2 separate regions of the Homo sapiens genome follow, and region 1 is linked to region 2. The links come from fine-mapping of genetic effects on gene expression. A gene starts in region 2. The other region holds a variant in brackets. All regions are shown on one strand. Distances are from middle to middle. Region 1 overlaps TAF2 (TATA-box binding protein associated factor 2). Region 2 holds the start of TAF2 (TATA-box binding protein associated factor 2).

The links. PIP is the estimated chance that this variant, and not a neighbour inherited with it, causes the effect.
Region 1: its variant is the best candidate, but not a certain one, in a credible set for the expression of TAF2 in whole blood (INTERVAL, PIP 0.72).

The regions. Positions count from the first base shown.
Region 1 is chr8:119,801,440-119,803,939 of GRCh38, reverse strand. It overlaps TAF2 (TATA-box binding protein associated factor 2), which reads left to right. Exons shown (of 26, transcript NM_003184.4): 5 at 1-62; 6 at 1,915-2,146. Among named protein-coding and RNA genes, the nearest start is that of TAF2, 30 kb to the left of the region's middle. The variant C/T (reference allele first, on the strand shown) is at 1,398.
Region 2 is chr8:119,831,751-119,834,659 of GRCh38, reverse strand. TAF2 (TATA-box binding protein associated factor 2) reads left to right here and starts at 1,819. Exons shown (of 26, transcript NM_003184.4): 1 at 1,819-2,178. The coding sequence starts at 2,096. DSCC1 (DNA replication and sister chromatid cohesion 1) reads left to right here. Exons shown (of 9, transcript NM_024094.3): 9 at 1-684. LOC105375728 (a long non-coding RNA gene) reads right to left here and starts at 1,781. Exons shown (of 4, transcript XR_928590.3): 1 at 1,584-1,781. RefSeq lists enhancers at 1,698-2,057, 2,118-2,167.

The sequences.
Region 1 (2,500 bases), 31 kb after region 2:
GAGGGAAGTATGGCAGAGAGAGGTGCTCATGTTTTCTCTTGTGGGTATCAAAATTCTACAAGGTAGATTATAGATTCTTAAATATTTCAATTAATTTTTAAATTGCATTTTTTATGTATAAGCAAGACATACATTTGGTGTAAAACAAGAAATACTAGTTTTATTCCCTTCCAAATTTAGACTTCTTTCAAATTACTTTCTGTTAGTCATTCCTCTTAAAAAAAAATTTTTTTTTCTTTTTTTTTTTTCAGACAGTCTTGCTCTGTCACCCTTGTTGGAATACACTGGGGTGCTATCTCTGCTCACTGCAACCTGTGCCTCCTGGGTTCAAGTGATTCTCATGCCTCAGCCTCCCAAGTAGCTGGTATTACAGGCATTCACCACTACACCTGCCTAATTTTTTATATTTTTAGTACAGATGGGGTTTTACCATGTTGGCCAGAATGGCCTTTAATTCCTGACCTCAAGTGATCTGCCTGCCTCAGCCTCCCAAAGTACTGGGATTACAGGCATGAGCCACCATGCCCGACCCCTCCTCAATCTTACATCTCCCTTCTTCTCTCTCATTTTCATGTCTACTGTTCTAAAATAATCATCTCACTTGATTCCTTCTTTTTTAAAAACTTTATATTGAAGTAAAACATACATACAGAAAATTGCACAGAATGTAAAGCTCGATGAATTTTCACAAGTGAACAAGCCTACATAATTTACATCTAGAGACAAAGAATATTACAAGATTATAGAGACCTCCTCTCACCTGCTTTCATACTCTACTTCCCCACTCCACATTCTACTACTCAACTCTGCTTATTTATTTATTTTTTTTGAAACAGAGTCTCACTCTGTTGTCCAGGCTGGAGTGCAGTGGCATAATCTTGGCTCACTGCAATCCCCACCTCCTGGGTTCCAGTGATTCTCCTACCTATCCTCCTAAGTAGCTGGGACTACAGGCATGTGCCACCACACCTGGCTAATTATTTTATTTTTAGTAGAGATCAGGTTTCGTCATATCTTTAGTAGAGATAGCCTGTTGCACCAGCTGGAGTGCAGTGGCGCAATCTCGGCTCATGCAATCTCGGCTCATGCAACCTCCACCTTCCAGGTTCAAGTGATCCTCCTGCCTCAGCCTCTGGAGTAGCTGGGATTACAGGCAGATGCCACATGCCTGGCCAATTTTTGTATTATTAGTAGAGACAGGGTTTCACCATGTTGGCCAGGCTGGTTTCCAACTCCTGACCTCAGGTAATCCACCTGCCTCAGCCTCCCATAGTGCTGGGATTACAGGTGTCAGCCACTGCGCCCAGCCTGTCCTCAGATTATTATAATAACTTCTCTAAACCAGGGATAATGTCTTACACACTTTTGTGCTTCAATACTAAGTACCTACCCTGTCA[C/T]GTAACACCTTACTGAACTGATGAAAGCTGACTATAAATTTTATATCTAACTTAACCAGCACTCAGTTTGAATTTATACAATACGTTACATACTCCAAAAAAGCAGTTTTATAATTTAATGGAATAAATTCTGAATGTTAGTTATGCTTTATAAAACTTTTTGCTGTGAGCCTTTTTTAGTTTCTAGAAATGAATGCTGCATAAAAACTGACTAATATGCGGATACAAGTTAAAATTATTTTTTAAAACACTGAAAGCTAAGAATTGCTTAACTCTTTTTAGGGTTTGAACTGATGGTACCACATAATATATTTTCTTAATATTGCCAAATAGTATTTGGAAACAGATTTTATTTTATCAGATTTTTTTCAGGTTGTACAGTAAAAAGCTTCAGTAGCCAAATAGCTAAAGGTTTTGTTTGTTCATTTTCTAGAAATGCTAAAATAACTTGCATGTGGGGAAAACAATGTAGAGAACTCTTTGAATACATTTTCTATACTGTCAATCTTTTTTCTAGATTTTGGTTCCCTTGTGTTGATTCATACTCTGAATTGTGTACATGGAAATTAGAATTTACAGTAGATGCTGCAATGGTTGCTGTTTCTAATGGCGATTTGGTGGAGACAGTGTATACTCATGATATGAGGAAGAAAACTTTCCATTATATGCTTACCATTCCTACAGCAGCGTCAAATATCTCCTTGGCCATTGGACCATTTGAAATACTGGTAGATCCATACATGCATGAGGTAAGTCAGAGCTTTCCTCTCTTACTCTCCTCCTGGCCCTTTACTGCTTTTAAAAAGATAGATATTGGCAAGGCACGGTGGCTCATGCCTGTAATCCCAGCACTTTGGGAGGCCAAGGTGGGCGGATCACAGGGTCAGGAGATCGAGACCATCCTGGCTAACACAGTAAAACCCTGTCATTACTAAAAATACAAAAAATTAGCCAGGCGTGGTGGTGGGCGCCTGTAGTCCCAGCTACTCGGGAGGCTGAGGCAGGAGAATGGCTTGAACCCAGGAGGCAGAGCTTGCAGTGAGCTGAGATTGTGCCACTGCACTCCAGCCTTGATGACAGAGCGACATCTCAAAAAAAAAAAA
Region 2 (2,909 bases):
TATATTATGTCTGAGGTCTCTATGATTTATTTAAAGTTTGGCTTTTTATATTTAAAATGTCATTTCTTTACTTAGGATTTGATGTTCTAATCATTAATACACTTAAGTTTTCCAGAGAACTAAATAGTAATAGTTTCATAGAAGAGAACTATTTATTCACTTAAATATCATTTCTCAAGTGAGTGAGTTCCCCTCTACTTTTAGCCTTCCACCCAAACTGGAAGCCTCTAGGTGCTATCAATTATTTATATCCATCGTTTACATCCATGAAATTGGCTGAATAATTACTCCTCTGCCTGGCGTAGACATGCGCTTTGGGAAAAAAACGAGTTTATAATCCTATAATGAAGAATACTGGCACAGGCAATGCTCACTCGAAAACTTCAAGTAATTTCTAGTTGGTTTTGGAATGCTTGATAAAGTTCCTTTACAGCTTTATTTTCCTGATTTGTTTTGGTTTAGATCAAAGTTCAAATTAATTTTAACTTAGCTAATGAACTCATCACCAGGACAGTTGGAGGGGGTAGGCCGAGGTTAAATGGTCCACGTTTCAAAAATGTTAATGGCTAATCCATAATTAAAGAAGGTTTAACTGTTACTGAAGTTTACAAGTTTTATTGTCATGAACATGAAATACAAACACGATGGCTTCGAAATGTCTTTCAATAAATGTTTCTGCATTTATATGGATTATATGATATATATACACAGTCTATATATCTCTATGTAGTCTATTTATTTATTTTGAGAGGGAGTCTCGCTTTGTCTCCCAGACTGGAGTGCAATGGCATGATCTCAGCTCACTGCAAACTCGGCTTCCCGAGTTCAGGTGATTCTGGTGCCTCACCCTCCCGAGTGGCTGGGAATACAGGCGCACGCCACGACGCAGGGCTAATTTTTGTATTTTTACTAGAGACGGGCTTTCACCATGTTGGCCAGGCTGGTCTTGAACTGCTGACCTCAAGTGATATGACTGCCTCAGTTTCCCTAAGTGCTAGGATTACAGGCGTGAGCCACCACGCCTGGCCTGTAGTCTATATTTTATTCTTTTTTTTTTTTTCTGAGACAGTCTCAGCTCTGTCGCCCAGGCTGGAGTGCAGTGGAACGATCTCAGCTCGCTGCAACTTCCGTCTCCCAGGTTCAAGCAATTCTCCTGCCCCAGCCTCCCAAGTAGCTGGGATTACAGGCGTGCACCACCACGCCCAGCTAATTTTGTGTAATTTTTAGTAGAGACGGGGTTTCACCATGTTGGTCAGGCTGGTCTCGAACTCCTGACCTCAAATGATCGGCCCGCCTCGGCCTCCCAAAGTGTTGGGATTACAGGAGTGAGCCACTGCGCCCGGCCTTGTAATCTATATTTTAAAATAAATACTAAGGCAGCAGTGCCTAGTGAGAGCTGTGGAGTGCTGCAGTTTTGACATTTAGACTACCTGCAGTCTAATCACATATTTTACAGCTTAAATCACCGGACCCAGTGTGTCTGTTCACACAGCAAGCCAGAGGCACGCACCTCCTGATTTCGGGAGACTTCCCACCACCCCACCCCGCCCAGTTACTAGCACCCTGCCCCAGCCTATTTATACCTGGCTCTTCGCAAACTTTGTCCTCCATTCTTCTCAATATGCTTGTACTAGAAAACTACCTTCCCTCCTTTTCTTCCTGCTGTTCTCGCTTCATCCATTAAATAGTTTTTTCCCTATCCTAAATTTTAACAATTCTTTACGATAAGACACATGCGAAGATCGCAAGCCCTGCCCATTGACAAGACTTCCTGGTTCTACCCCCGCCGCCGTTCCACTTCCGCTGACGTCGGAGGTCAGAGGTTACAGACAAGATGTCGGCGGATGGTAGCTTCGAGCCCTTGCGGAGAGGAGCATCTCTGTGACAGAAGCTTGTCGACGGCGGCTTCTAGGAGCTAGTCGAAGGAGCGAGGTTGAGGCGGGCAGCGACCCGTCAGGTCGCTCACCTGGGCACCGGCCAGCTGCGAGACGTGACTTGGGGACCGCAGGGGAGTGGAGAGTGTGAGGTGCCAAAGACTAGTAATGCCCCGTATCCCCCTAGGAAGCCGGGAAGCCAAGCTCCGCGGGACCGCTTCATGCCGCTGACTGGTGTAGAGCCCGCCAGAATGAACAGGAAGAAAGGAGACAAGGGCTTTGAAAGCCCAAGGCCATATAAATTATAAGTATTTTTTCATTTCCCTTCCTTCCTTTTGGTTTTGTTGCCATTAATTATATTTTGCGATTGCTTGAAATTGACTTGGTGGGCCTGGGAAACCTAGTGGGAAACTAGAATTTACTCACTGTGATGGAAATGGTGTTTGTAAGGTAAAAATGTTTTGAATGACAGGTTATTCAGCAAATTTAATTCCCGTTGCAAGTTACTAAAGTTTTTGTCTAAGTACTAGATTGTATTTCTGTCAAATCTGTTTTCGTGACTGTTGCTAGATTTTAAAAAATTATCCCAATTGGTAGAGTGTTTTTTTTTTTTTAATTTTTTAATTTTTAAGACGGAGTCTCTCAGTCGCCCAGGCTGGAGTGCAACGGCGCGATCTCGGCTCACTGCAGCCTCCACCTGCCGGGTTCAAGCTTTTCTCCTGGCTCAGCCTCCTGAGTAGCCGGGATTACAGGCGTGTGCCACGATGCCCGGCTAACTTTTGTATTTTTAGTAGAGACTCGGTTTCACTCTGTTGGCCAGGCTGGTCTCGAACTCTTGACCTCGTGATCCGCTTGCCGTGGCCTCCCAAAGTGCTGGGATTACAGGCGTGAGCCACCGCACCAGGCCCCAATTCGTAGTTTTAAAATGAAATATTGACATGTAATTTTGAATTACTTAGAACATAGTCCTAATTTATACTTGGATAGAATTATACTTTGATTTAATAATAAAAATTATTTTTTCCTTATTTTCTT